Linked DNA regions of Homo sapiens: region 1 is linked to region 2. A link means that fine-mapping ties the variant in region 2 to the expression of a gene that starts in the linked region. Tissue or cell type: whole blood. Region 2 holds a variant in brackets; the other region holds the start of a gene. All regions are shown on one strand. Distances are between the middles of the regions. Region 1 holds the start of TMEM176A (transmembrane protein 176A). Region 2 holds the start of LOC105375566 (a long non-coding RNA gene).

The links. PIP is the estimated chance that this variant, and not a neighbour inherited with it, causes the effect.
Region 1: TMEM176A starts here. The variant in region 2 is fine-mapped to the expression of TMEM176A in whole blood (INTERVAL, PIP above 0.99).

The regions. Positions count from the first base shown.
Region 1 is chr7:150,799,445-150,802,198 of GRCh38, forward strand. TMEM176A (transmembrane protein 176A) reads left to right here and starts at 1,325. Exons shown (of 7, transcript NM_018487.3): 1 at 1,325-1,384; 2 at 2,092-2,280. The coding sequence starts at 2,107. It overlaps TMEM176B (transmembrane protein 176B), which reads right to left and starts at 920. Exons shown (of 7, transcript NM_001101312.2): 1 at 854-920. RefSeq lists enhancers at 1-616, 617-1,316, 1,317-2,016.
Region 2 is chr7:150,779,082-150,782,107 of GRCh38, forward strand. It overlaps LOC105375566 (a long non-coding RNA gene), which reads right to left and starts at 2,048. Exons shown (of 4, transcript XR_928163.2): 1 at 1,602-2,048; 2 at 1-4. The variant C/T (reference allele first, on the strand shown) is at 1,470.

The DNA of each region.
Region 1 (2,754 bases), 20 kb after region 2:
ACTTTAGAATCAGCTTGCCTGGCTCTAAAATAAATCCTGCATAGGCAATTCTAATGGACATCCTGGCTAAGTATCACAGTTTAAATCAAATATTATTAACAATTCTAATAACACCTCCCATTCGTACTCTACCTACTTTTCAAAGCAGTTTCACTCTTTCACCCACCTGGCCTCCTTGGGGTTAGAAAGGACAGGAGTTAGACAATTCCGCACACGTACAAAGGAGCTTCAGACTGCTTCCAGCCCAGCCCCAGATTCCAGCCAGACCTTCCCTTGACGGCCCAGGCCTCGCCCTGAGGGCACCTCGGGTTCCAGCTACCTCCGGGCCCCCAGGACCACCGCTTCCCCCGCCCCACGCCAACCCCTAGATCTGCCTCGCCCCCGCCTGAAGAGTCGGATCTGAACCAGGCCGGCACCACGGAGATTCCCCTGCGGGCCGCCCGACGCCTGGTAGGTGGTGGGCTCTTCCCGGCTGCCCCGAACACTTTCCTCTGTCCAGCTCTTCCCGTGCCCCGGGGCTGGGGAAAGCGTCCGGCAGCCCCGCCGCTCCCTGGCCCCGTCCCAGGAGCCACCCCACCGTAGGGCTCCAGCCAGGGTCCAGGCGTGCAGGCGGCAGAAGGTGGACGGGACGCGCCAGCCCCAGGCCTCTCCTCCCGCTCTCCAGCCGTTTTTCTGGGGAGAAACACCTGCACCCAGCTGTCCCTCCCTCCTACGTGAGTCCTCCTGGAAACCAGGTTGGAGGAAGAAAGACGTCCTGTGGACAGGACGGGGTGGGGGCATGGCCCTGGGGACTCCTCGTGACAGAGGGTCCTGCGGCAAGAGGGTCTCCCGGGCCGCGGAGGCCCTGCCTCACCTGCAGTCCTCCGGGAGCCCGCGGCCGAGCAGAGCGGACACTAGCTGACCCCGAGCAGGGGAGCGACGGGAGGGCGGAGACGGCAGATGCACGGGTGGGGGCTGCGGCCCCGCCCAGGCTGCGCGGTTTCCCGAAACCAGCTGCGGCCCGGGGGCCCGGCAAAGGGGGTTCCGCCCGGAGGAGCGGACCGGGCGGGAGAAGACCGAGCCCCCGCGCGCCCCCTGCGCTCCCACTCGCGCACACTTGCACGCCGGCCCTGGCCGGGCGGGGCTGGAGGCGAGAACGACCCCACGGGCTTTCCCAGGGCCGTCCGCCCGCGGACCCTCCCAGCTCCCCAGAGCCCAGTGACCCTCGCGCAGCAGGAGAACCCCAGACGGACCCCAGGCCCTGCAGCCTGTCATGAACCCGAGGGGCTGAAGTTCAGCCCCACCCCCGCCTCCCCTCCCCGCCTCCCCCTCCAACTCTCAACCCACTTCTCCAGCCAGCGCCCCAGCCCTCCCGCCGCCCGCTCGCAGGTCCCGAGGAGCGCAGGTGAGGCGGCACCCCACTCCCGGCGGCCCCCGGGCCTCCTTCCGCACGCACCCCGAGCTGCCTCCGCACAGTTGGAGGAGCGTAGGAGGGACCCCCACCCAGGGATGACACTCCAGGAAGGGGACTGCAGAGGAAGCCAGGTGCGGCCCCGGCTTTTGACCTACCTCCGCACCGCAGCGCGGTCCTTCACGGGGCAGGGGCGGCGTGAACCCGTCGGGCGTGAGCAGCAGTCGGTGGAGCGGGAGGTCGGCGGTGGCGGGGATGGGGGTATCCGGAGCGCAGCCGGGGCGCAGCTGCTGGCACAGGAGCTCCACAGGCAGCCAAGGACTCGGTCCTGTCCCAGAGCCTGCGGACTGTGGAGGGGAGGCCGCAGGAAGAGCCCGGGAGGAGGGGGTGAGGGGTCGAGGTGTGGGGCGCTGCTTGACCCAGACGCCAGGGCCCTGGGAGGAGGATGAGGGGGACAGAGCAGATCTTGGGCGAAAGGGGAGGTTCCCGCAGGCTCTGTAGTCGCCGCAGTTCCAGCATGGTCAGCACCCCCTCTGCTACACACATTCCCCTCGTGAGGGGCCAGGGGTGCGGCCCTGTGACCAGGACAGCCATTCATTGGGTGACTTTGAGCCACCACTGGCCCCTGACCTCCCCAACTCCAATGAAATCTGCGAAAATCTTCTGACAGCCGTTCCTCTCTGGTGCTCCCTTCCTCATAGACTGTGTCCCTGACAATGGGAACAGCCGACAGTGATGAGATGGCCCCGGAGGCCCCACAGCACACCCACATCGATGTGCACATCCACCAGGAGTCTGCCCTGGCCAAGCTCCTGCTCACCTGCTGCTCTGCGCTGCGGCCCCGGGCCACCCAGGCCAGGGGCAGCAGCCGGCTGCTGGTGGCCTCGTGGGTGAGTGTGACGGCCTGCCTCGTCGGGCGGCGGGAGGAACTCCCCACCTCCAGCCGCAGCAGCACTCTCTGCCAGCCTCCCTCTGAACAGGACACCGAGCCAGTTATGTCTTCTTACTTAGCGATGTGATTCTCTGGCCTTCTCAGTAAGAGCCTGGGGAGGGGAGGCTCTGGGCTGAAGGGGTGTGGAGGAGCCACTGACCATGCAGAGTCCCAATCAGTGGAGCCCTGAGTCCATCCTTTCCTCTGGGCCAAACTCAGGATGGGCCGGCTCTCCTCTCCTTCCTTTCCCTTCTCTTTTCTCCTCCTCCTGCCTCTTCTTCTTTCTCCTTCTCCTCCTCTTTCTTCTCCTTTTCTCTTCTCTTCTCTTCTCTTCTCTTCTTTCTTTCTCTCTCTCTCTACCTCTCCCTCTCTTTTTGGGGTTTTAGCGGTTAATCCCTGCAGTGGCAGGTCCACCTAGGAGCCGGGATCTTGG
Region 2 (3,026 bases):
ATTTCTAAAAGTAAAGAGGTTTCTTTTTTCTTTTTTATTACAGTGTTTCTACATTTATAAGAAATTTAACTTGTCTTCTCATTGTACTAATATCTGTATTAAGACTGGTTTTTTGCTTTTGTTAGCGCTCTTCACAAAGCACTAATTTTCAACAACGTGATCCAACCATAACTCTCTCATAAGTCTGTTGTTTTTAACATGAAATATTTAAGGAATGCAAGATTTTTCAGCAATATATAAATGTTACAGCAGAAATGTCCATACTGTTCCCCACCACCACTACCCGCACTTTTAAAATAAATCATAGCACACTCTACACACTGAGTTCACTGAGTTGTGTTTGCTTTTTTTTTTTTTTTTAGATGGAGTCTTGCCCTGTCACCCAGGCTAGAGTGCAGTGGCACAATCTCAGCTCACTGCAACCTCCACCTCCCAGGTTCAAGCGATTCTCCTGCCTCAGCCTCCTGGGTAGCTGGGATTACAGGTGTGCGCCACCACGCCCAGCTAATTTTTGTATTCTTAGTAGAGACAGGTTTCACCATGTTGGTCAGGCTGGTCTCAAACTCCTGACCTCATGATCCACCCGTCTCAGCCTCCCAAAGTGCTGGGATTACAGGTGTGAGCCACCGCGCCCAGCCTTGCTTTTATTTTTTAATGAGATGAGTACATAAATAGCCTCTTCATGCTTTTTTCAGCTGCAGAGTGCAGGTATTAAGACGTAAATGGGATCTAGAATTCTGATTTGATTCTGTTTCTCTAGCACCGACATTAAGATAGACTCTTGGGGATCCAGTGTTCACAGGCACTGTTACTCCACCTGGATTTTGTCTACAGAGTGAATTATCTAAGACAAATAAACTATACATTTTATGTATATGTATATATAAATGTACATATACATTTTATGTATATGTATATATAAATGTACATATACATTTTATGTATATGTATATATAAATGTACATATACATTTTATGTATATGTATATATAAATGTACATATACATTTTATGTATATGTATATATAAATGTACATATACATTTTATGTATATGTATATATAAATGTACATATACATTTTATGTATATGTATATATAAATGTACATATACATTTTATGTATATGTATATATAAATGTACATATACATTTTATGTATATGTATATATAAATGTACATATACATTTGCAAAACTTGAGTTTATATGCAGCTTTTTAAGGAACAGAACACTTGCTTGAAGTGAGTTTCCCCAAAGTATCTGAATGCCTGCCACACTCTCCTCTCCCCCATTACATGGTATTTCCTCACAGTTCAGATTGGCAAGTGCACTTGGGGTCACCCCAGACACATACCTTGCTCAGGAGCCTCTGAGTGCAGCTCCTAAATATCTGGGGCCTACAGCCTAGACAACCCACTTAAGTGCTAGTTACTATACCTAGTCTCTCAGCCTATTATAATTGGGACTCTTTCAAC[C/T]GCACATGTCGTAAGCAAAAGATTGCTTAATGATCGTATACTAAAATGGTCAGGACTCAATCTGGCTTCAAGCACTGCTGAATTCAGAATTCAAGCAATACAATCAGGTGTGAGTTGTTTGTTGTTTCTCACCTGTCAGCTCTGACTTCCAGGTTGTCTTCATTCTGAAGCTCCTGGGGTGGTCTTTGGCAGCTCCAAGTGGACTTTTCACAGGGCAATGATGGCTGCCACAGCTCCAGCTTACATCCGTCTAGGTTCAAGTTCAGTGAGGAAAGCAAGAGCCTGTGATGGTGGCATAACCCAGAAGCCCTAAGATTTACTCTGATATGACCCATTCAGGCCATGTGCCCACATTTGAAACAATCTCCATGGCCTGGGGAAAATGATCTGCGGTTTAAGTTTGGGTCACAGGCTTTATCCCTGGAACTAAGGACAGAGCCCCACCATGAACACTTAGCCTGATAAAAAGGAAAAGGTAGGTCCAAAAATGGAAATCTGGGGCTGTTATTAGAAGAAAAGAGAATGGATGCAGGGCCATTTCTTGTTAGATTCTATGCTAGCACTAACTCGATGGTTCTCAAAAAAAATTTCCCCACCACAACAATTTCAACCAAGAATGGTGGTGTAACTTGAGAAAGTCCCTAGAGGATTTCACAACATCTCCAATTGCAAAAGTTCTCCCAGCTCACACCAAGAACCACTGGCCTACTCGATTATTCCCCAAATATGTCCTGTTGATCACATTGCAAACTGTTCAATACAAACGGCTTAAACAAACTCCATGTACAGCTGGAAAAAATAATTCATTCCATTTATTGATTCATCCAACAAATATTTAGAAGCTGTCCTCCCAACTCCCCCTAATATCTCTCTTGTGTATACAAGGCAGGAGGATTTGTTTGCCATTACAATTTATTGCTGACTTCCAAGTTTATATATACCAAATGCTCCTAAACTCCAGGCTAACATGTCCAAATGCCTTCTCAACATCTCAACCTGATCTCTAAAAATCCTCTCATATTTAACATGCCCCAAATTGAACTCCTGTTTTCTGTCATTTAAAAATGTTCCCTCCATAGTCTTCCATGTCTTGGTAATTAACAATACTTTGAAACAAAAACTTGGAAGCTGTCCTTTGCTCCCCTTCTTTTCTTACAACCCACATTCATCCTGTTTGGGAACCCTGTAAGTTCTGCTGCCCAAATATATTGAGAATCCAATCACTTCTTGCTACTTCCACTGCCACCATCATGGTCCAAAGCACATCAGTGCTTGCCTGGATTATTACAAGAGCCTGCTCAGTGTCCTTTGCCCTTTATCCCTAGCTCAGTAGTCAGGATTCATCCTTCTCACCCACCCACCCCCAATTCCACACATTCCCAGTTACAAAATGCTCTAGAAGGAACTGTAACAAGAGGCATCTAGCCCTACCTTTGCTGAAGAAGGGCAAGGCCCATCTCCTGGGGTTCCTGGCTCCTGCAGCCTCAGCATGGCCACATGTCCCTGCATCTGACTCCTAGGACCACAAACACTGACATACAACTGGTTCAGGGTTAG